Linked DNA regions of Homo sapiens: region 1 is linked to region 2. The links come from fine-mapping of genetic effects on gene expression. A gene starts in region 2. The other region holds a variant in brackets. All regions are shown on one strand. Distances are from middle to middle.

What was found. PIP is the estimated chance that this variant, and not a neighbour inherited with it, causes the effect. A credible set is the group of variants that fine-mapping cannot tell apart.
Region 1: its variant is the best candidate, but not a certain one, in a credible set for the expression of ENOX2 in putamen (GTEx, PIP 0.76).

What each region holds. Positions count from the first base shown.
Region 1 is chrX:130,541,253-130,553,610 of GRCh38, forward strand. No RefSeq gene overlaps it. Among named protein-coding and RNA genes, the nearest start is that of RBMX2, 150 kb to the left of the region's middle. RefSeq lists an enhancer at 11,303-11,352. The variant G/T (reference allele first, on the strand shown) is at 6,579.
Region 2 is chrX:130,897,440-130,909,797 of GRCh38, forward strand. It overlaps ENOX2 (ecto-NOX disulfide-thiol exchanger 2), which reads right to left and starts at 5,770. Exons shown (of 15, transcript NM_006375.4): 1 at 5,610-5,770; 2 at 4,245-4,292. RefSeq lists enhancers at 5,136-5,655, 5,516-5,785, 5,656-6,175, 5,796-5,985.

The sequences.
Region 1 (12,358 bases), 360 kb before region 2:
AGCCCAAACTTGTACTACAGGAAAATGTGTCCATTCAAATGCCAGGCTAGTTTATTTTTTTAGTAGGCCTCAAAATACTTTTGGTGTTTTGGTACTCAGTTTTAAACTTCTTTTAAATTTTATCGATTAATAATAATAATAGCTGATACCTATTGAGTGCTAACTATGTGGCAAGCACCTTGCATGCTCCATCTGATTTAATAGTGTGGTTCACAACGTTATTTTCCCATTTTATAGATGAGGGAACTGAGGCCCAGAAATCGTAAGTGATTTGATCACTTAATTTAGACCTATTGGACTCCAAGTCTTGTTTGCTTAGCCATTAAACACTTTGGCCTTCTCATATAGATAGTTCACAACACTGTGCTTCCCCCAACCCCTCAATTCGGACCTGTGGGCTTCTTTGTATGTGAAGTTGCATAATCAAGTAAGCTGGTCACCCTCAAAGCTAGGCAAGCCTCAGAGACTTTGCACTTGTCACAACAGAGAACACAGTGCAAAGACCTGATGGAAGCATGTCTGGAGGAGCAGAAAAGTAGGCCAATGTCACTGAAGTAGAGTGAGTGAGGGGGAGAGTAATAGAAGAATGGACTGGATTAGGAACAGAGGACCAGCTTTTATAGGGACTTACAGGTCTTTGTAAGGCTTTTACTCGGAATGAAATGTGGAGCCATTGCAGGGTTTTGAACAGATGAGAGACATGAGCTGACTTAGAGGTTTAACAGGATCATTCCAGCTGCTGTGTTGAAACTAGACAGTGGGTGGTCAAGGGTAGAAACAAGGAAACAAGTTGGGAGGTATATTATTTTCCCTTAGGAAACCCTAACAAAGTACCACAAACTAGGTGGCTTAAAATAACAGAAGCTGATTGTCTCAAAAATCTGGAAGCTAGAAATCTGAAACCAAGGTGTCATTGGGGCCATGGTTTCTCTGCGACTGCGTGGAATCCCTCTTTGCCTCTTCCTAGCTTCTGTCAGTGGCCATTGATCCTTGCCATTCCTTGGCTTTCGGCTGCAGCACTCCAATCTCTGCTTCTGTCATTGTATGGCTTTTTCCATGTGTGTCTCTGCCTTCACATGGCCATCTCCCTTCTGTGTCTCCCTCCTCTTCTTATAAGGACACCAGTCATATTGGATTAAGGGCCCACCCTACTCCAGTATGGCCTCATCTTAACTTATCTAATTACATCTGCAATGACACTATTTCCAAATAAGATTACATTCTAAGGTACTGGAGGTTAGCATCACGACATATATTTTTGGCGGGGACAGACTGTAACCCATAGCAGGAAGCTATTTCAGTAATCTGGGCAAGAGATAAGGGGAGCTTGAACCAGGATGGCAGCAATAGTGGTAGTGAGAAGTGATCTGGTAATGAATATATGTGGAAGGTAGACCCAAAAGCCTTTGCTGATGAAATGGGAGTTGGCCCAAGAGAAAGAGAAGCAAAGATGACTCCAAGGTGTTTCAGCTTGAGGAACTGAAAGGATGAAGTTAGCAACAAGTGTGATGGTAAATGCAGAAAGACAGCAGATTTAGGAGAAAATCATGGTTTGGTTTTGGACAAATTAAATTTGAGATGCCTGTTAGTCATTCAAGAGGCAATGTTCAGTAGGAAGTTAGTTATATGAGCCTGGAATTCAAGAAGGAGTTCAGAGCTAGAGACTCAAATTTGGGAGTGGTTTCTAAGGAGAATGAGAGCCCACTTGTGATTTTAGGCATAAAGCTTAACACGAAGCTTACTCCAGCCAGGATCAGTTACTGGGATGCAGATGTAGACAAGACGAAAAGTTGGACTTAACCTTTGTTCCAGTTTTTCTAGGTAGGTGTGATGATGGGAGAGGGAATTGGGGAGCTGAGGATGGATGCCAAGGAGTGATGATAATAACGGACCGTAGAATCTAAGTGAAATAAACATGTAAGTGAAGATATGAGGGGGTGATAGAGGGTAAAAAGATGATTAACAGTGGGAGGGTTGTTAGAGTGGAGATATTAGAGGGAATTAGGAAGAGAGAGAAAAGAGTGGGGTGATTAAAATTGAGATTTTTTTCAGCAGAACATTGACTAAAAAGAAATTTTTTAAAAATAAAATTGAGATGTTGAAGGTCCTGCAGTAGTTTATGACGAGATCTAGGAAATAAGCCTGGATGTGGGTGACCAAGGATGGAAAGAGAGAACAAGATCTTTGGAGTGGAGGAGGTCAAGCAGCTGAGAGACCAGAGTGCTATATGGATTATTCACAATGTAGACAATGAATGTAGGTCTGCACAGACACATGCATGTATGTATGCAGACTCCACATAGATATTGAAATCACCAAGAAAGATGACAGGGGCAGTTGTGAAAAGACAGTGAACCACAAGCTCAAATCATCAATGAATAAGGGAGAGTGAACAGGAAGAGGGGAGATGATAACAACAAGGAGGTGTAGCAGGTAACACACTCTGAAACTTAGTCTTACAGCAAAGTGATTGAAAGAAGCTGGGGCAGGCAGTTTGGGGAAGGTCTACACACAGGAAGTGGTAAGGGGGAGCAAAGAGGACACCTGTTCCACCTCTGGGTCCAGTGGTACATAAAGTATGAGAAAAAAAATAGTCACCACTTGAGAGCGCTGTACAGGAAGCAATGTCTTCAGAGGGGAGCCGAGTTTTTGATAAACCCAAAAGTTCAAGGAAAATTTTGGAGAAGCTGAGAATGTAGGGAATTTTGCAGAGAGAAAGGTCAAAGGGTTTGGGAGGGTTGGGAAGGGGTGGTCGATTGAGTGAGATGAGGAGGTGCAGGAATTCATTTCCATGTGAGTGATCATGGATGATCTAGATGGTTTGAACTTTTGTGATGACTGAAGTAAATAGGCATTTAGAGCACGATGAAACCTGATGATCTCTTGGCTGGGGAACAGATGGTTAGTTTTAAATGTAGCCTCTCCTTGGGACTGGTGTGTCCTGTAGTGCAGTGTGGTCTATAATGGGAATGATGGGGTGAGGTGGAGTTGTGGTCTCACTCTCACTAGGAGCAGGTGGAACACTGGGCTCCCTTTTTTTTTTTTTTTTTACTTTTTGTGGAGAATGGGGTCTCGCTATATTGCCCAGGCAGGTCTCAAACTCCTGGACTCAAGCTATCTTCCCACCTCTGCCTCTCTAAGAGCTGGGATTATAGGTGTGAGCCACCGCGCCTGGCCCTTTGATGTTCTTAAGAGAGGCGTCAAGTCCAGAGGAGGCTTGATCTTACCAGGAGAGATTGTAACTCTCAGGGTCTCTCTTTTAATCCTATTGGGTCACTGTAATACTTCTCTTATTTCTTTTATTTTCATAGTCTGCTCATTACTTTAACATAGTACAATGATGTTTGTTTTTGTAAAACTGATACATGATCACTATGAAATATTCAAGTAATGGAGAAAACTATAATGAAACTTAAAAAATCCTCCCCAAATACCCTCATTAACACTTGGTTAACATCATCTCAGACTTCTCTATGGATTTTTACACTTGTAACTATTTTACATGGTCTTGTGTTTCCTTTAAATAATATGAGTTATTGTTGTAAACAGTTTGAGTACTATAGATTTATTCTAATCCTCTCACTTTACAAATGAGGACATTGAGTTCTAGAGAAAGGAAAGTACCTGTCCAAAGACACTCATCCCGTCAGTTAGGCCCAGGTCTCTTTTTTGTTTTTTTTTTTCTTTTTCTTGAGTTGGAGTCTCGCTCTGTCGCCCAGGCTGGAGTGCAGTGGCATAATCTTTGGCTCACTGCAACCTCCACCTCCCGGGTTCAAGCAATTCTCCTGCCTCAGCCTTTTGAGTAGCTGGGATTACAGGCACCCGGCACCACACCCGGCTTATTTTTGTATTTTTGGTAGAGACGGGGTTTCACCATGTTGGCCAGGCTGGCCTTTTGGCCAGGCTGGTCTCAAACTCCTGATCTCGTGATCTGCCTGCTCAGGCTCCCAAAGTGCTGGGATTACAGGCGAGAGCCATGCTCCCAGCCAGGCCCAGGTCTCTTTACTTTCCAGTTCAGTGGGTCTCTTTAAGCCGTGCTCCTCTCTTCTTCTCTTACCTTCTACATAGCATGGTCCCTGATATTTCAACTCATAGATTTCTGCATTCAGAGATCTCACTTTGCCTTTGGTTTTGAACACTTATTCATCTAGTCATTCAACAAACCTTTATTGGACATCTGCTATATGCCAGGCAAAAATGTTAGGCACTAGAGGTGTGGTGATGAGCAAAACAGACATGATCTCTCACCTCATGAAGCTTACATTCTACAGAATGCACAGAAAGTTTGTGCTTTACTTCCTAACTTTATCCATTCAGGCCAAGGCGCATATAACTATGCACTTGTTTATAACCCCAAGTCATTCGATGGTGATGGGAAAAGAAAAGAAAAATCGTTAGACTTAAAGTCATATCACTAGCACATGGGAGTACCAAATGAATACTTGATAGTCATAGATACTAACAAAATCCATGAGGTCTAGAATACTTTTCTGTAACTATAGTTTCAAGCATTAATTTAAAAGTTTAATTTAAAAATGCCATAGTGTTACGTATAACAAAAATGCCCAAAACACAACATTTAAAATTTTAAAATATATATGATCTATAAGGATGCAAAAGTCCTTCTCTCTAATTGTACCTTCCAGAGGTAGCACTTCTAAACCCTCTGATGTGTGTCCTCATCAACTTTTCTCTATGCTTACATAGATTTTATTTTTTAATAATAACAGGATTGCGTAATTGTTGCCAAATTCAAACAATGCAGACAGACTTACACTGTATTAAAAGTGAAAATTTCTCATATACTCACCCCCAATCTCAGTCCTCATGGGTGACTATTAACATATTGATGCATATTTGATGTGAATATTTTCAAATCTTTTTCTATGTATTTACATAGAAACACATGCATGAACACACACACATACACACACACACACACACACACAAGCAAACAGGGCTGTTTACATTTTTTGTTTTAAGGCAGCAGTAGTCAGAAATTTAAAGTTCAGAAGTCGAGGGCACATTCCTGTGTTTTTCATTTTCGACAAGTAGAACAATGCAGCCATATGCCGGTCCCTCTCTGGAGTTAGTACCCAATGCTTGGAATGTGAGCAGATGCTGAAGGCTATTAATGAAGTCCTTGAAGGGAGGCCCATTCATGTATGTTGTAGACACAAGGCCAAAGTTGAATGTGGTGGCCAACTGAGCAGCTGGTAAGGGACTAGGAAAGCGAGGAATGCACCAATGCTGGTTGCGAGTTGATGGACCATGGGAACCACATCATCTGGAGGAGTGTCCTGCCATTGCTGTCATTTAGGAAATGGAAGCAACACTTGGAGTCCTGAAGGCTTTTAACCTCAGTTGTTACATTAGTGTGTTGCAAATGTGATAGAGAAAAAAAATCTGGGAAAAATGATCTGATATGGTCTAAATGAAACTAGTTTTTATCATGCCTAAAATTGGAAAACTCCAAGACTTTCTTTTTTTCTTTTTGATTTCTTGGATACAAAGAACAAGACACAGTAATGTGTGTTTGATTAATGCCAACTCCCTGAACTCCTTAATGTCAACTAGCTACTCTTCATTACCAAACACCACATGTGCTCTTCTTTCAGTTTAGGCATACCAGCGCAGCTGCAGAAGACACAGTGGTGATCTCTATCACACCAACAATCAGATATTTGTCATAATAGCCTCCTAATCATATCGCATATGAAGCCTCAATGAAGTCTTTATAACCAGACATGAAATAATTAACCTTTTCTAATTTAAAAGACCTAATAGGGAATGGTCTCTGTGACAGGTGTAAAATTCCATTCCTTCTAGAAAATTACTCACCTAGCAGATGCTCCTTCTGACTGAAAGAGAAATTTCATTGCAAAAAGAATGTTCACCTTTTATTATGAATATTGCACAATGCATTAAGACAATGGCTTTCCATGTAGCAGTGCATAACCTTGATCTTCTGACCACTAATGTTCATTGTATAATACAGATAACAAATATTCACCTGTCTCCATTCTTCATCAGTGAATTGCAAGGACACTTGGATTCTAATGCTGAGGGTCCCTGGAAGTCTGAGAATGCATCATAGTCTTAGGCTTTTTCAAAAGTGTAAATAGGTTAGTGTGCTAAAGACTTGCATTGAAAATAGAGATTGCTCAGAAAAAAAAGAATTGTATTTCCACTGCCAAAGAGAAGAATCAAGATCAAGAGGAAGAAACTATTTTTATACCACAGTGCAAAGATAAGAAACCTTCAACCTATTATTTGGATGTGGCCCTGGGCTTAACTTGGTACAACTTGAAGCAATTTTCTGAAGTATGTACCCTTCTCCCCCTACACTGAGCCAGATACATATACAGACAATTTTGTTGAGTCCAACATGAATGTGGTGCGAACTCAACAGAGATCTCTGGGTGTTAAAAGGCAGGCCCCATGCCCCGAGATGGCCTTTGAGAGGGAGAGATGCTTTGCACAGAGTCCTAATTTTCCCAGGGAGAAGTTGGGTGGGTGATATCAACGACAGCAGTGATAGAGACTGCATCACCCTTGGGCTGAGTGTGGTTAAGTTT[G/T]GGAAGAAGTCAGAGAAAGTGTGGGGTTGCTGACCTTGGGTGTGCCCAGCTTTCTGAGTGCTAACTGGGAGGTGGCATGAAGATGGCAAAGCTGGAAGTGGAGAAGGAGCAAAGGCTTCTGCCAACAGTGTCTGATGTATGGTGAGGCGGACCATGCTGGTTGTGCTTTGTATTTCTTTTCTCTTTCTTCTGTGTTTCTCTCCTCCTTCCTCTGGCTTGATTTTATTCTCTCTCCTTCTTTTTCCTGGGGTATGAGTGACAAGGATGGACTTTTGAGAGGCTCTGAACTTGAAATTTCAGCAAAGAGAAGGACCTGTGGTTTGTGTAAGCATCTCTCTGTTGTCCAGATACAGAACCCCCAAAACATCGAGAGTGGCTTCTCTTCCTCTTTTCTCTGCCTCCCATCCAATCCAAGATCTCTCAATATGCACTATTTGTGTTATCTTCTTTGAAAGGTCCCTCTTTCTCTGAGTCTTCTCTTTCCCTTAGTTCCTTTCTCCATTATTTAGACAAAAATGAGAGTAAACTATTCTTTATTCACTTTCGTTTGTTGAACAGAGTTTTGCCTTTTATTTTAAAAGCAGTTGAGCAGGATTTTTATATTTCTTGCCCATAAAACCTAAACCTTGTTAACATTTTTCAAGTTAGTTTTAGTCCACTTAGGGATAGTTGCTCTCAAGAGATAAAAGATTACCCATACCTATCCCTTTTGTGGGCTTTGTATTTCACAGATCTATTGAAAAATACCATTTATAATAAAAGCTAGCAATTATTGAGCTTACTCTGTGGTAGGAACTTAATCTGCATGATCTTATGTAATAGTGGTAGCCGCCCCACGGGGCTGTGTGATGACTGAGTGAGCCCATGTATATAAAGTGCTTAGTGCAGTGCCTGACAGATAGCAAGCTGTCAATAAGTGTGCTATTAATACTGTTATTAGTACTACTACGATGAAGTTACTGGAATAAGCCACAGCCAGTGGCCTTGGAAAAACAAAGTTAAGGGTCTAATCAACCAAGACTCACTAGACAGAGCAAAGTAGCTGGTAATAGGATAGTAAATGTTCCTGGGATATGGCAGAGGAACAATGGTCTGGAAGCAACAGAAGGAGTAAGGAATAGGCTGATAACTGTCCCCACTGCCATCTCCGGGGATAAGGTGAAGCTACTTTAGGAGATGGTCTCCCTTTTTTTTTTCCATTATGAGAGGTTATTTTTAATTCTATTAAATTCCAATGTTTATTCAGAAAACCTGGTAGAGATTGAATTGCTATATGTACTTTCTTAGTTTTCTTCTTCATATCATATTTTGACCATTTATCTTCTACACCTGGCTGACCTGCATGTTCCTTGTAGTGTAACTTCTACTTGGTGTTTGTGCTTTGCTTTGTTTTCAAATTTAAATTGTGAGATACATTTTCTAAGAAATAGCCCTGATATTGAAATGGCTTCTGTGGAATAGGTTTGACAGATGTAAGTCTTTGATTCTTTGGCTTTGGTTTTTGTGCCTGTTACAGTTTTACACACATTCATTCAGAGGAAGACATTACCATCAATGTGTTGTTTCTTTTTTCAAATTCCAGTATGTTTTCAAAGACCCGTATTTCACTAAGCAGTGTACTTGTTGAAACTGATGTGAGTGACTTTATGTTTCCACACGTGATAGAGCATCAGATACTGGAGTTTGCCAGGGGTAGAATGGTTGGATTCAGGAATGTTTAGCTGACTCATTGCAGGAAGTTACCCTGTAATCCCAGCTACTCGGGAGGCTGAGATGAGAGAATCACTTGAGCACAGGAGGTTACAGTGAGCTATGATCACGCCACTCCACTCCAGCCTGGATGACAGAGCGAGACCTGCTAATGAAAGAATTATGTTCCAAAAGCCAGCTAAGCATTTTCTTTAAATGAGAAGAGTCTGTGTTTCATGGCAGCTTGAAAGAGGGGGAAACATGAAGAGGAAATAAATGAAGACTATCTCGGTTTATTAAGGACACTGCAAAGGATTCTGATGAACACCAGGTGGAGAGGATGCACAGGGCAACGCTGTGGGGAGGGGCGTGGGATGGTCTCTAGCAAGATTGGCTATAGTAGCGAATTAAGAGCACATCTAGATTTGGATTTCAGTGCTAGCTGTGCCATTCATAAGCTGTATGACCTTGGATAAATCGCTTAACTATTCAGAGTTCTAGTTTCCTCACCTGTAAAACGGGAGTGCTAATATTAATGGAACCTAGCTCAGATGGTTGTGTGGTAGCATATGTGAGATAATAATATGCATGAAGTAAGCTTAGCATGCCTTCTACCTAATAAATGAATGCTGCTGCTATTGTCATTATCATTCCAATCACCCTGCAGAGAGGGTATGTTTGTCTTCATTTTACAGTTGAGAAAACTGGGGCTACAGGAATCAATAACTTTTCCAAGGTATAGTTAATAGGCACAAGGCTAGAATTTGACCAGAGATGTCTCTGCCCCAAAGCCTGTGATCTTTCTACTGCTCTGTGATGCCTCTGGAAACAGTGTTCTTATTCCAGAAATGAGAAGCACAAGGTCAGCTCTCACTTAAAATAGTAACAAAAACAAATCCTAATATGTTCCTTAGCCTGTGAGGTACACTGGCTGCTCATTTCACTTGCTTTCAACTACAGGGAAAAAGAGCTGTTTGTCACCTGTGGTTTGATGGAGCTATTTTTTTTTTCTCCTCTAAAGCTAGCTTCCCCTTTTCACTAAATTAGTGTCATTTCCATGAAACAAAGGTGTTTCCGATGTTTCAGCCTTTTCATTTCTCTCTAAGCATCCACTTCTTGAAGGTTTTTATTTTCAGGTAGATTTACTGCTGCCCCAAACACAAGGACCTCAAGTCTAAGCATTTTCTGGAGCCTTGATATCTTTGGGAGAATTGTTACTGCTGAGCTCCGATTGTACAGGAAATTTTGGACATCAAATTTTCAGGAGACCTGTATGCTTCTCTCATCCCCTACATGATACCACACTCACAACCTTGGCTTCAATTTTTTGGCATGTGGCTTTGCTGGTTCTGGCATCTGATACTCTCTGTAGCTTCAGTGTTGCTTCTTTTTTTGAAATAGCATGCTCTTTTAGGTGTTGCTCTCGCATACCTTGTTTAGTACTGGTGGCATATGGTGTTCCTACAGTCTTACCATTCTTACCCAACAGAGGAGTCAAAAGGGGAACATTTATCTGGCTGAGCTTGGGGAGAGCAAGGACTCAGTAGGTTTAATGTCTCAGGAAAATGACTGGAATCATGAGTAGAAATCATTATAAATTGCACAGTCTGAATTTATTTGACAGAAAATTATTGAATGTTCATGATGAAGAAAGCATTGTGCTAAATACTCCAGGAATACAAAGACATGGCATCTGTCCTTCCAGAGCATATGAGTTAATAAAGGGCAAAAACAGTATTCAAAGTATTTGTGGAGTTTGAAGTTCCATGAGGAGATTATACCCTCCTCCCAAAACCAAAAATTCTGTAGGGATCCACTGTCTATAGGACCAGGGAAAGCTTCACAAAGGAAGTAATATCTGATCTGTCTCTGGCATGAAATAGGTGCCCAAGAAATATTCATTGAATTGGGTTTAGACCTGTGAAATATGAGAAAGGGCCTTGTAAGTGGAGGGAATGGTGTGAGCAATACTGCAGAAGCGAGAATTGTCAGAATGTATACTGGGAACAGAAAGTATTTTAGGCCAGATTAAAAAGTATATATCAGGGAGGGATTGGGGAGGGTGGTGGCAGTGAGGCCCAGATGGAGGATCATGACCTGGAAAGCCAGGATAAGGAGTTTGTCCTTAGTTTAGCCGACATTAGGGAGCCACTGAAGATTTTTGATGGTAAGAATGATAAATTTATTTCCTAAGATAGCTCTGATGGCAGAACAGGTGGCCAATGCTTTTTTAAACAAACAAACAAACAAACAAACAGTAGTTGAGGAGAGGTCAGGAGAGGGAACATGAAGAAAAAAGTCACACTAGTTGGTGATCAGGATGCATTGAAGACCACCCTAAAGAATCCATTTGGTAGAAGGGTGGAGTTAGAGGCCAGATTTCAAAGATTTAAAGGAATGAGTGTGGTAGTGGAGGGAAGGAAAGCAAGCTTCAGCAACTTGAGAACCCAGAGGCCTGAAGGAAAAGCTTGTGGAGTCTAGAGCATCACTGAAGTCAGAGAGGAAGGGGCCTGCAGAGGGAGGCACTAGAAATGAGGGAGGGACTGGCCAATTCATATAAAGAGATGACAGAGGAGGAGGCTGAGAGGGGAATTAGTGGAAGGGTTTTTCTTAGAAAGGAGGATTTTTTTTTTTTCAGAGATAGGACTGAAGGAAGAGAGACTAAAGGAAATGTATTAAGGAAGAGAATGAGCCACGAGAAAAGGAAAGAGTAGCAAAATCTTATTTGGGTCTACATATAGAGCCTTGCTGTCTTGGCAGAATGCTCAATGCTCAGAACACCCTTCTGAAAGCTTGCCCGCCATCCGGGCTTCCTCCACAAGATTCAAGGTCTCATTGATTCTCTTCAGCTTCAGTCAGAGACAATCTGACAGCTGCAGTTGGCTCAGCCCTTCTTGCAGCAAGCTGACACCATTTCTGGTGGGCTTCAAAGGCAGTATAAATGGTTCTCCCTTAAGAGCAGGTTACACTCGGCACCTAGGCAGCCTCATTACACAACTAATTAAACCTCTATCACTTGAAAGGAATCAATGGCAGTTCAAGATCTGCTTGAGTAGACTTTGCATTTCCGTGTTCACACATAGCAGTCCTACAGTCAAGGAGTTCCCAACCACTGCAAGGGGAAGATGTAAACAAGACCTTAGAAATAGATTGTTTCATTTCCTATAAGGGGGTGTCCCAGAAGATCTTACTCATTAGACAGTAGGCAAGACCCCTTTAACCTTTTGAAATAGAAGGGAGTTTCGGGCAGCTCTTTAAACGGTGGGAAGCTCAAGCTTTCTGCTCTGGTGCATCCATCTGGACAAAGGCATGTCAACTTCTCAGAGTCTGTCCTTCCTGGCAGTTCCAAAGGGAGGTCCCCGGGTGTTGAGTGCAGTAAGCTAGAGCCTGGGTTTTCCCCTACAGAAAGGCTCCAGCCCTGTTGTAAATACAACTTTCAGAAACTAATTTAACTGGTTCCACTTAAATGAACTGGGAAATGACCCAATAGAAGGGGACAGAGGGACTTGTGCCAGTTCTACCATCGCAACAGGAGCAGCCACACCAGACCTTTTACTTTCAGCAGGAGAATGTTGACTTTCTGAATGCAACACACTTTTCCATCTACTTACTGTGTTATTTAAATAAATTGCTTTGCTCTTGAGGGACCTTATACTCTTTGGCTCAGTGAGAAGCTGGTAGATTGGAGTCAGAAGGGGCTGTCAATGTGGAATCTAATAGAGTTTCAGTGTGGGAATATTAGGGGTCAGAAGCAACCTTACATTAGTTATCACATCTTGTCATTAGATGACATGGATATTATTATAAAGAGGAAATCTACAGGGAGCGTGGAGATGAAAGCCATAAATTGGCTAGAAGAAGTAGGAGATTTCAATGTGAAAGCAAGTGCTTCAAGATGTGGACTGCCTGTGGACTGCCAAACTGCCCTATGGACTGCCCAGGCTCCCTGCTCTACTCTCATCTCATATCACTTTTTACTCCTTGAAATACTGTCAAGTTTGGATTATTCACTGTCCTCAGATGACAAGGGTTCAGCGCCAACAGACTAATTTTCACGCCGGCCTAAACAGACTTAATTAGGGAAGCTGTTC
Region 2 (12,358 bases):
GGTTTTAAATTTTCTCTTTAAAAAATGCCCTTTATTATGATAACTTTTCTTCTCGCTTTGATGTATTTAGTTTTCCTCATCTGTAAAATAGGAATAACTATTTTATGTGTTTAATATTTTTGCTCTGAGAATTAAATACCAGTAGATTGCCTGGCATAAAATAGCTAATCCATACAGTCCACATCAACATTGGCTAACATTAATTAAATACCTATTATGTGCCTGCCACTGGCCAAAGACCCCCCAAAAAAGTAAATCACAGAAGGAAAACCTAATACTAGAGGAGCAAGCAGGGAGCTGATTTTCAAAGCTTTTATCAGGCAGTCTAAGAAGTCTGGATATTACTCTGAAGACAATGGACAGCCTTTGAACTATTTTATATAGAGACCAGATGGTTTTAGATTTGTGATTTACAAAAATCATTCTGTCAGCATTGGTAAAGAGTAGACTAGAAGGGAAGCAGGCTGGAAGCAGCAGTAATCCAGGCTAGAAGTGATGCATGTGTGTTGGGGGGTGGAAGGTATGCCCCAAAGTAAGACAATGGTGGACACCGGGAAAACATTTTAAAATAACTTTTTTTTTTTTTGAGACAGAGTCTCACTCTGTCTCCCAGGCTGGAGTGTAGTGGTGCAATCTTGGCTCACTGCAACCTCCGCCTCCTGGGTTGAAGCAATTCTCCTGCCTCAGCCTCCCGAGTAGCTGGGATTACAGGCGCATGCCATCACGCCCGGCTAATTTTTGTATTTTTAGTAGAGACGGGGTTTCCCCATGGTGGCCAGCCTGGTCTCAAACTCCTGACCTCAGGTGATCCGCCTGCCTTGGCCTCCCAAAGTGCTGGGATTACAGGTGTTAAGCCACTGTGCCTGGTCAAAATAACTTTTTAAAAATTAACAAATATACTGTAGATTAGAAAATAAAAATACGCAAAAGGTTAAAAGTAGAAGTCATATGCAATCTTACTACTTGCAGCAAACCCCTATTAATATTTTTTTGTGTGTTTACCATTACAGGATTTTTCCTATGTATGCCTACACAGATGTGTGTGTGCGTGTGCGTGTGTGTGTGCGTGTGTGTGTGTGTATTATGTATATGTTTTTAAACTGGGATCTGTCACTCTGTACTGAGAGTTCTATGATGTGAATTTTCTCTTAATATATCAAAAACAATTTTCCACATCATTAAATATTGTTTGGTAAAATCAACTTACAAGGCTACTTAGTAATCCATTCTATAAATGTACCACAATTGATTTCATTCAAATCCCTAGTATTGTACATTTAAGATGTTCTTTTTTTTCTTTTTTTTTTTTTTGTTGTTTTTGCTATTAGTATAAACAACTCTGGGATAGATGTCCTGAGTATTAAATTTTTGGAAACATCATGATTGTTTCCTCAGCATAGAGCTCTAGAAGTTGAAGTGGTAGGTTAAAAGCTGTATTCTATTAAGGTTTCTGATACATATTGACGAATTGCTCTCCAGAAGAGCTGTATCAAATTATAGTCCCAGCAGCAGAGTCTATGAGTAGGAGATGAACTTGAGAGTGATGTCAAGGACGGAGTGTACTGGACTTGGGTGGGTAGAAGGAAGGATGTTTCCTGGCAAAGTATCAGGGCAGGAGGAAGATGAACTCTGTCAAGAGCAGCAAAGTAATGGGCAGGGCTAAGGAATAGGTGCCTGGATAGGTAAATGATAGGAAAGAAAAAGGTAAGATAACCAGGGGAGAGTGAAGAAAAGAGGGAAAAAGTAGGTCTTTCATGAAATTATGGGCACTTTAATTTACTCCTTTCTTCAGCAAAAGTAGCAAATGTAGCAAACAGCTAGTCTTTTCATAGCATTTGGCACTCTGTGCTACCAAGGTCCCCAGTTATATTCATGCAAATCTGTTTATCAATTCTTTTCACCCAATAACCATTTATTAGGTGACTACCATGTGTCAAGTGCTCTTCTGGATGCTATGGGTATGGAGATGAATGAAACCTGGTCCCTGCCCTCAAGGAGTTCACAGTCTAGTGGGGAACACAGAGACATCCACAGACCGACACCCTACAGTGTGGTACAGGCTAGGACGGAGGTAACTAAGTGCAGGGTCCTGTGGAAGCCCGAGGCCTAACATTGCCTTGTGCGTGCATTCATGTATGTTGGGCAAGGGCTGTCGGGAAGGCTTCACAGAGGTGTTGACATATGAGCTGAGTCTTAAAGGCTGAGGAATTTCTTGCATGCCTAAGGGTCACAGATCATGGTCATATTCCTAATCAGTGCCTTGAATATTTGTGCTACTGCTCTCAAGGACACTGAGTAAGGTGGGAAGGATGTTTGTGTGTAATCCAAATCCACTCGAGTGGTAACTATAGCTTCCATTGTAATCTTAATGAACATAGAAACATAGCATGTTTTGGCAATATTATTGCTCACCATACAATATAAAGGACAAGAGGCAAGGGGGGCATGCAGACTTTTAAAACAATTCTGGTAACACTGACAAAATAATATTAACATCCACCAAGTCCTAATAATTTTACCTCCTAAATGTTTCTCAAATCTCTTCGCTCCGCTCACGTCACTACTCTTGGGTCTTTATTGTCTCTCTGTGGAACAGAGTAGCAGCCTCATCATATCCACCTCCACTGTATCCTTCCCACTGTCATTTTCCTTACAGTAAAAATCTGATCGTGGTGCTCTTCTAAAACATGTTAATGGTTTCTTATGGCCTACAAGCAGCACTTCCCAAATTTCAGTCTGAGTATTACTTAGTGATTTTTACCATATTCACACACAATGTGTACTATTACTACTTAATATTTGTCTTTAAATGAACTGAAAACTGGTTCACTTTCTATTTTTATGAAGTAAAATCCAAAGTAATCTTAGATGTGATGGCTTAGTTCAGTTTTATGTTTTTTAAGACATATTTGAACATGTAACTAGTAAAATTAAAATGTTTGTGGGAGCACAGTGTAACTACCACTGGCAGATGCCCTACGTTTTGAGAACCACTGACCTATGGGGGCACATTCCAACTTAGGATTGCAATCAAGGTTCTTTGCAAATCAGCCCCAACCTCTTTCCAGACTCTTCTCCTACCCATTACAGTTTCCTTTTACTCAACTATCTGCACTCCAACCATGCTGAATTCTTCCACATTGAATGAACATGCCCTACTCTTATACAGCCACACATCTTTCACAGACTGACTCCTCTATCTGAAATGCCTCCCCTCCACTCCTTCCCTGCCTGGGGCAAACTCACTATCCTTCAAGACCTATCTCATGTCACCTCCTCATGGAAGCCTTCTCCCCGAGTCTCCCTTACAGTGAGTCACACCTTCCTTTATCCCTCCATAGCATTTTGTACCTGTCTCTGTTATACTACACACTACAGTATCTCAGAACTGTGGGCATCCAGCTCCCCAGCTAGACCCCAGGAAGAGTTCACACCTTGTACTTCATTGTTTCTCCAACACTTCACGTGGGCAGAGGTCATGAAAGAGATCTAGTGTCCCAGGTAACTTCTTAAAATGCTAAAATAAAATACATCCAAAGTGCTATCAAGGTCCAAATAGCTTAGAGGTATGATATGTGTTATAAAGAGAATCATCTAATTCAGAAATAGCCGTACTGACTATGGTTTTGGCAGACACAATTAGCTACAGTTGCAATGACAGTTAATTTGGTTTTGGCAGCTACTTTACAGCAAATACATTCTGACATAGAAATTTTAAGTGAATCATTTGGGTTTTGGCCAGGATGATGAACTATACCTATCTCTCCTTACCACAACTGGAAAGTCAAGAACAAGAAAGAACATTGGGAGCAGCAAACCATGTTGAACAGAGCATGGGCTTTGGAGTCAGAAATCTGTACACCCAAACCTCAACTCAACTTATAATCTATGTGACTTTAAGTAGATTGTTTAACTTCTGTGCATTTTAGTGTTTTCTTCTAGAAAAAGAAACAGGAATAATAGTACCTACTTCATAACACTCAAGATAATGCAACAAAGTATTTATGATGATGACTAGGACATTATGTGGGTTCAATAAATAGCAGTCATTATTGTCACCCAATGAGATGACTACAGTTCAGATAATGTGATGCACGGGGACAGCAAATGCATTTCTTAAGAAAATATATCGATGTCTCTAGGCTTTAAAGTTGACAGCTATAGACTGTAGCTAAGAATAGCTACAAACAAAACATCTGCAAGACAAGCTTCTTCTTGGATTTAAACTCACACCTGGAACATACCATCACACTTCTTTGTGTTCTCCAAGAATTGATCTCAAATCAGGTTCCCTAGGATGAAAAGAAAAATCATCCAATCTTAATTTTTGCCTTCAATTTTATTTGATACAGAATAATATCCAAACTATGTGTATGTTTCAAAGTATCATGTTATTATGACCCCAAGCTTCTCCACCCTATTTATTTCCCAGTATATTTGTGCTGATATCTTTTATTCCAATCAGGCAAGCCCACCTGTCTCACAGTGCTCCCTCTTCTGTTTACCCTTCTCAAAGTCCAATCTCAGTAGCAGGAAGCATTTTCTCCCTCCTCTTTGACAACTTCAAATCCCCTGTACTCTGCTGGAGCCCAGATTAAAATTCACCTCCTTCACAAAGCCTGAAAGCCGGATGAGGGCTTCAGCACTTCCCGGGTTAGGCTTGAACTTCCATAGATGAACTCACCACCCCCATCAGTATGCTCTTCCACTGACCCCTCTTAGCGTTTTTTGCACACGTTTGTAATAATACAATGATTAATATGGTCTGTTTCACACGGTCTACTTTATTCTGTAGAATAAAGGTGTGCCCCCTAAATGTTTGTCAACATTAGTGCTATCAGTCTTTGCTGGAAACCCCTAAAGCGCTGGATTTTTATAACCAGTCTAACTTGCCTTTTACTCTCACCAGAACCCTGCACTGAACCTTAAACACACATTTCTCAAAAGCAAGATTCCTTCCCTCTTTTGCTTCCCATCCCTTCTAGAAATTGAGGGGAAACTCTCCCCACTTCAAAGACCTGGTGGGGGAAGTGGCAGGTGGCTGAGGGGCCAGTAAAGAGATGGCGATCAATTAAGGAGGCAAAAAGAGAAAGTTTGAAAAAAAAAAGTCACGCCCTGAGCGTGGCAAGGAATTCCCATGCCCCAAAGAAAATGGGGAGTGTAGCGCAGGGAGGGTTATGTGCCCAAACCTGAAATACAAATTGAGGGAAAAGAGGAAAGAGATCACCCAATTCCTGCGGTAAGAATTAGAGTCCAGTCACCGCCTAGGCAAAACCCTGGACGCAAACCCCAACTTCGGACCTCTGAGGAGGCACAGAGCCAGGGGGAGGGGGGCGGCGTCGTGGGAAAAAAAAAAAGGGGCGGGCGAGTTGGACCAAAAAAAAAAAAAAAAAAGAGCAAAGACAGCGCGCTCCCGGGCTCAAGAGAACTGGCGCCTAGAGCTCAAAAGCCCACCCCCGACTCCCAGTCCCGATACCCCCTCCCCTGCAGAGGTGGAGCTGGGTGGAGTTAGGCGCTGAGGACCGCGGCCCCGGAAGCACCCTCCTCCCTAGGCCCCCTCAGTCCCACAGTCCCCAGCCACGGCCACCGGGGCTTTCTGCCTCTCTGACCTCCAGCTCCCCGGCTACCGAAGCGCTAGTCCTTATACAGCCGCGGAAAATCGGGCCGGCGCGGCAGTTCCTGGGCTCGTAGTGCCCTCGCGGCGCCCCACGCCGCGCCACTCTCTTCCGAAATGCCCGCCTCGCGCTTCCAGGCCTAGACCCGGCACTCTGGCCCAAGGCTGGACTCTCACACACAGGGTGCCCACTGCGGCGTCTCCTATTGGCTACTGGTCACCGGGGAAGCCGGAGGCCCGAGCCCATGGCTTCATGGGAAATGTAGTTTGAGGTCGCTGGAGGCTGTTCTTCCTGGGGGTAACTCGTGTTGACATTGGCAGACAGACACAAGTGAGGACCGAGAATTATGGGAGATGGAGTTGCGGGACACTTATTTCTCTATACGCACAATTCTTCCCCTCCCCTTCCGATTGTCCCCAGCGTTCAGACGGGGAAGGGTATTCTGGGTATTGTAGTTTGGGTGCACTGTCTAGAGAATCTCTCTTGGGGTTATGGGTTTGTGCTTGTGGGGACAGACGAAGGCTCTAGATTTATTTTCATGTCGGTTAAGCTCTTAGCATTTTGCGGGAAGCACTTTCTATCGTGATTTGAAATTGTTATTGAGTTTTAAGTGTTTTTCAAAAGATGATGTTTATTCTTTGGTAAGCTTAGAATTTTAATTGAGAGTTATAGTCCTTTAAAATTGTTAAAGTGTGTTCCTTGTGAACCACCTGCATTAAAATCACTTGAAAGGTATGGAAGAATGTATATATTTTTTTCTAATTGGAAATTATAGTTCCCCCTGGAAACAGTGTCATAAATAGGCATAGAAATGTGATCTACACCAGCCCAGAAGAAGCCTATTTAATCCATAATGAAGCTATGTTGTTGCCATGAAAAACAGTGGCCACATAAACTGCTATAAATAACAATTTAGAACAGATAGACAATACAACTTAAGTACAAACGAGTAACTATATGTGTCTTTAAGAAACTTAACCTTTTGAGTAAAAATATGTTACAAGAGCTGGATAAAGACATAGGTGGGGAATGCCAAGCACTTCCAAGTGACTTAAAGGTTGAGGAAAATGGTTGTTTATTAGGGCTAATTTCACTCCCAACTTTTGACCTTTTTTTTTCTCTGTTAGAGATGAATCCTTGTAGCCTTGTTACAGTTGAATTACTACAACTTCTTGATGAGGACAACTTTTCGACTCACGAGTAAAATGAAGGGAAAGACAGGGGAATTGCATTTTGCTGAGGTAATTGCCCAATATTTTAAAAAGATAAGTGAAGGAGGAAGACGATTTAATAAATTCAACCATTTATTCAGCATAGTGCTTTGTGCAAAGCTCTGGGCTAGGCACTGTTGCCACAGAATTGGAAAAATAGTCCCTACCCTCAAGTAGCTCAAAATCCAGGTGAGGGGAGTTGTAGTAGAGGAGAATCTGGGGGGAGGAATAGATGAGTATACAATGTGCAAAATGCTGTAAAGAAGTCTACATAGGGTTCTATAGGAACATAGAGGAGGAAGAACTTGTTCTACTTCTGGAGAACTGGTTGAAGAACCAGTAAAATATTTGTCAGATTTGGGGCAGGGAGGTCAACCATATTCTATACAAAGCATATGCAAAGGCATAAAGGCATGAAAGAGTGCAGAGAACAATAGCAAAAGTTCCATATTGCAGAGACTAGATCAGGCAGCAACAAGGGGTCATATCAATTAGTTCATAATTTAACTTGAAAGTGGGAGAGAACCATCAGAGGAATTTTTGTGCTTATATAGTGTTTATTTTTTAAAGCATATACACATAGAACATACTGGGAACACATAGCTAGGGTATTATGGGGAATCATTCTGGAGGGTGGTAATTGAATTGCTATATTATGTTTTAATACTTTTTATACTTTTAAATTCCTCCAGGAAAATAATTTGCTTTTTTAAAAAAAGAAAAATCGGCTGGGTGCCGGGGCTCATGCCTGTAACCCTAGCACTTTGGGACACCAAGTTGGGAGGATTGCTTGAGCCCAGGAGTTCGAGACCAGCTTGGGCAACATAATGAGACCTTGTCTCTACAAAAAATCAAGAAAATTAGCCAGGCATAGTGGCGCATGCCTGTAGTCCCAGCTACTCAGGAAGCTGAAGCAGGAGGATCCCTTGAGCTTGGAAAGTTAGGGCTGCAGTCAGCCGATATTGTACCACTACACTCGAGTGTAGTGGGTGATAGAGCAAGACTCTGTCTCAAAAAAAATTAAAAAATTAAAAAAAGAAAGAAAAAAGAGAAAAAGAAAAATCACCTCATTTCAGCCATAAAAAGGAGTGAAACAAGGCATTTTCAGTATTATGGCCACCAGAAAAACATTGTGTGAATCAAATGCAGAATTTCTTTTCTCAGCTTTGTCTCCTTTCTTTTTATCTTTTTTTCCATGACTCTTTACTTTGATTTGATCATTGATTTCAAAGTATTTGCAGAGCACCTACTATGTTCCATACACTATGACAGGTTTTGGGTTTTAATGGTGAGTTAAAACATGGGTTCCTGTTCATCAAAGTATTTCTAGCAGGAAATGGAATAATCAGATGGAGTTGGTAGATGTGGAAAGTGAGAGACGGGGAGGAGTCCATTACGACTCCCAAGTTCTGACTTGGAAGACTAAGTGTATGGTAGTACCATTCACTGAGATATTGAACCTAGAAAGAATAGCAAGTTTTGTGAAGAATAGGAGGAAATCAGTTTTGAACATTTAAAATTTGAAGAGTCTGTGGAACTTTTGGTTGGAGATGCCTGATAGGCTGCTGAGAAATGCCGGTCGGAAGCTTGGGAGAGAGGTCTTGCTTGGAACTAAACATTTGGGAGACATTAGTATAATATAGAGGGCAATTAAATAAGTGAAAAATTGTTTAAACTTTACTTAGAGAGTATTTTTTTTTTTGAGACGGTTTCTTACCCTGTTGCCTAGGCTGGAGTGCAGTGGCACAATCTCGGCTCACTGCAACCTCTGCCTCCTGGGTTCAAGTGATTCTCCTGCCTCAGCCTCCCGAGTAGCTGGGATTACAGGTGCCTGCCACCACAGCTGGCTATTTTTTTTTTTATTTTTAGTAGAGATGGGGCTTCACTGTGTTGCCCAGGCTGGTCTCGAACTCCTGACGTCAAGTGATCCACCCGCCTCAGCCTCCCAAAGTGCTGGGATTACAGGCGTGAGCCACTGTGCCCAGCCAATTTAGAGAGTATTTAGAATAATAGTTTTTAAAAAGACAAAGATTATGGAATCCTGGAAAATAATGATATTCAAGTAGCAAGTAGAAGAAGAGATGCCTTCCAAGGAAGCTGAGAGGGAATGCCCAAACAGATGAACCAAGAGAAAACAAAGTAGAATTACTGGCATATATTACAGAGAGGTCAAGTAGCAGGACAGAATAGTAAGAAGAAATTACTCCTTCATCAATATAACAAGTTTTTATTGAGTACCTATAATGTGCCAGACATTATTCTAGATGCTGGGAATAGAGAAGTGGAAAACACATACAACATCCCTTCCCTTTGGAGGCTATATTCTGTTAGGAAGAAGCCATCAACAAACAAGATAAATAATTAAAATACATAGCTGTGATAAGTAATATTTCTTACTGTGTATGTCACAGCTGTGTATGGCTATTTCTGTATGGTGATATAAATACACACACACACACATATATATATCTCCAATAAGCCATATGGAAATTTTATATATAATATATAAAACATATCTATATCTCCAATAAGCCATACAGAAATTTTATATATAATATATATTATATATAAGCACAAATGTATACATATATTTGTATGTGTATATACAAACGTGATACTCTTTGGTCTGTTGTTATATAATAAGATGAATTTGTGAAATACTGGCCCAGGGTCAAACAGTCTGGCTGGATTCAGAGAACAATTAGGAAGTCAAGGTTAGAGCTGTATCCAGAGCCAGTGTAGAGCCCAGGTCAAGGCCAGGGTTCATGTGTATAATGTGGAATGTATTTAGCTTCAATCTTTTCTCAGGTTAAGATTTAGTAAGTCTGTAGCTGTTTTTACAGGCCATTGTGGATTCAGGATCAGAAGACCATCAAACCAAGCTTAGGGTTAAGCCTGATAGCAATATTAGGCCCCAGATTTAGAGCCATGGTTCAGTCTGTGTCACAGATTAAAGTGCATTTCTGACCACTCTGGACTAACAGCAGCCTCAGGGTGTTAAAGCTCACTCTGAGGCTGCTGTAAGTCTAGAGTGGCCTGGTTTATGAAGTCAAGGTGCAAGATTTGGGTTCAAATTTTGGCCAGAATTAGGATTTAGTCTGTGTGTAGGAAGAGGCCTCATTCTAAAATTAGAGTTAGGGCTCAGTCTGTGGACCAGACTTAGACCACACCCAAGGTTAGGGCTCAGCTCAATGTTTGACTTTAGTTTTTGATCAATGTTGGAATCACTTTCATTTCTAGACTTGAAAGTCAATAAAGGCCAGGACCATGGCTCTGCCTGGGATTAGTCTTCATGCTGATGATGTTGCCTAGGAAAAAATGAAGTAAGAATATGAACAGGATTTATGTTCAGTCTTTCTTCAGGTTAAGTTTCAATTCGTATTCATGGTTAGAGTTTATTCTGGGTCCAATAATTAAGTCTCAGTCCGTGGCCAATGGTAAGGCACAGTCAATGTCTAATATTCAGTCTGTTGCCATGTTAGGACATTACCTGTCATGTGCCCTAGAGCCTTGTCTCAAACCAGAGTTAGCATTTCATATATGGACAAAATTATGATACAGTTTGTGGCCAGGATTTCAATGATGAATATGAACAGGATTTGGGATGCATATTTGGCTAGAGTAAGTTCAAGGTGTGGTTTCTGACTTTAGCCAGTGTCAGGATTCTGTCTTTGTCCATAGCTCATATCAACAATGTTCTATGGAGCTAACTCACAGTGGCCTGTGTTGGCCCTCATTCTGTGGCCAGAGCAGGGCTCAGTCGGTGACCTGTATTAGCCATTTCAATTTGACCACTATCAGAGTTGAGTCTGGAGGGAGTAATTCCACTATGACTTTATGTAGCATTTGTGTTCACTGAGTATTGGTGGTAGTGCTATCTGATTAAACTTGTACCAGAGTTTGGGAGTTACCAATAACCAAGGTAAGGCTTACTATGAAGAAGGTTTTAAGGCTAAGAGTGTAAACAGGTTTTTTGGATTAGCTGTTGATGTTATTTGTCAGTCAGTGGATAGAGTTGAGATGAGAACAAACAACACATAAAATCCAGATTGAAAGCTTTAGAGGCTCAGGCTGTAATCAGGGTTTTGGGATCAGGATGTTGCCAGGGTTTGAGTTCAGAGTGTTCATTGCCTGTTGTCAGTCTGGCACTTAGACTCTGGCTTAGTGTAGCAGGCATTTCGGTATCAGTAGTAGAGTTCAGTCTTTGCTAATTGTTAGTGACCATAATGTGCCCAGTGCCATGGGTACATCTATTCACAATTGAGGACTAAGTTTGTGACCAGACTGATTGCTCAACCTCCAGCTAGTGCTAGGACTCAGTTTGTGGCCACTAATACAGTGAACTTTGTTTATGGGTTTAAGACTTGATATGTGACAAAGGTGAGTACTTAGTCTCAGCCTGTTGTTAGATCTGATAATATGAGCAGGATTTTGATTTAGTCTTGTAGGGTCAGGAATCATTTCTCTAACCAGGCTTAGGGCTTGGCCTTTAGGTCTCAGACTGTGGTGGGACTTACAGTCTTCATCCCAGCTCAGTATTCAGAATGTGGCCAGGAAGAGGGCTCAGATCTTAGCCATGGTGAGTTCCGTCTGTGCTCAGGGTTAGAATTAAATCTGTTGCAGGGTTTTAGGCCAAGAAAATGAAAAGTATTTGTTTTGTCTTTGTCTAGTTTGTCCTTCATTCATCTTCAAGGTTTGGGTTCAGTCTCTGCCCAGTGCTGGTGAGCAGCTTAATTTCTGGTATTAGGAATCAGTCGGTAGCCAGGGTTAAAGTTAAAGTTGTGGTTGAAATTGGGATCCAGTCTCGGGTGAACATTTAGCCAGAGATAGGGTTCAGTCTATCTCAAAAATTCAGGATCAGTCATTAGCCATTTGGAGAAATCAGATTTATTTTCAGGTTGAAAGCTCATGTCAGAGGTTAGGCTTATGGGCTCAGTCTGTGATGAGAGTTAGGAATTCAGTCTATGGCTAGAGTTAGAGATGCAGTCTGTAACCAGTTAGAAGCTGTAAGGTTTAGGGGTCAAATCAGTGGCCAGTGATAGGGCTCAGTCTGTCCCAGGATCAGTAGATTATTTCCTGATCAGATTTATGAACCCAGTCTCTGTCCAGGTTTAGAACTTGGGCTTTGAACATGGTTAAGACTCAGTTTGTGGCCATGTTCAGGGTTCTGTCTATAGTCAGGATTAGGACATATGCTGTGGTCAAAATATTCTCAAGTTTTGTGGAAGATTTGGTTTCACTTCTTGGCCATGATTAAGGCACAGAGTTGGGACAAGTTTAGAGTCTGGTCTCTGTACATGTTTTCGTCTCTGTATGAGGCCAAGTTTAGTAGTCATTCTGTTGCCAATGTTGGGGTCATTTTCTGGTTAGTGCTAAGTCTGGGAAATTGTAGCTGGGTTGGTTTCCAAGATCAGATCTCAGGCTGTGACCAAGTTAGAGCCTCAGTCTGTAGTCAGGGCTAGAGCTCAGTTAGTATCTATGCTGAGCACTCATTTTGTGGTCAGTTCAGGATGTTAAGTATATCCCAGAGTT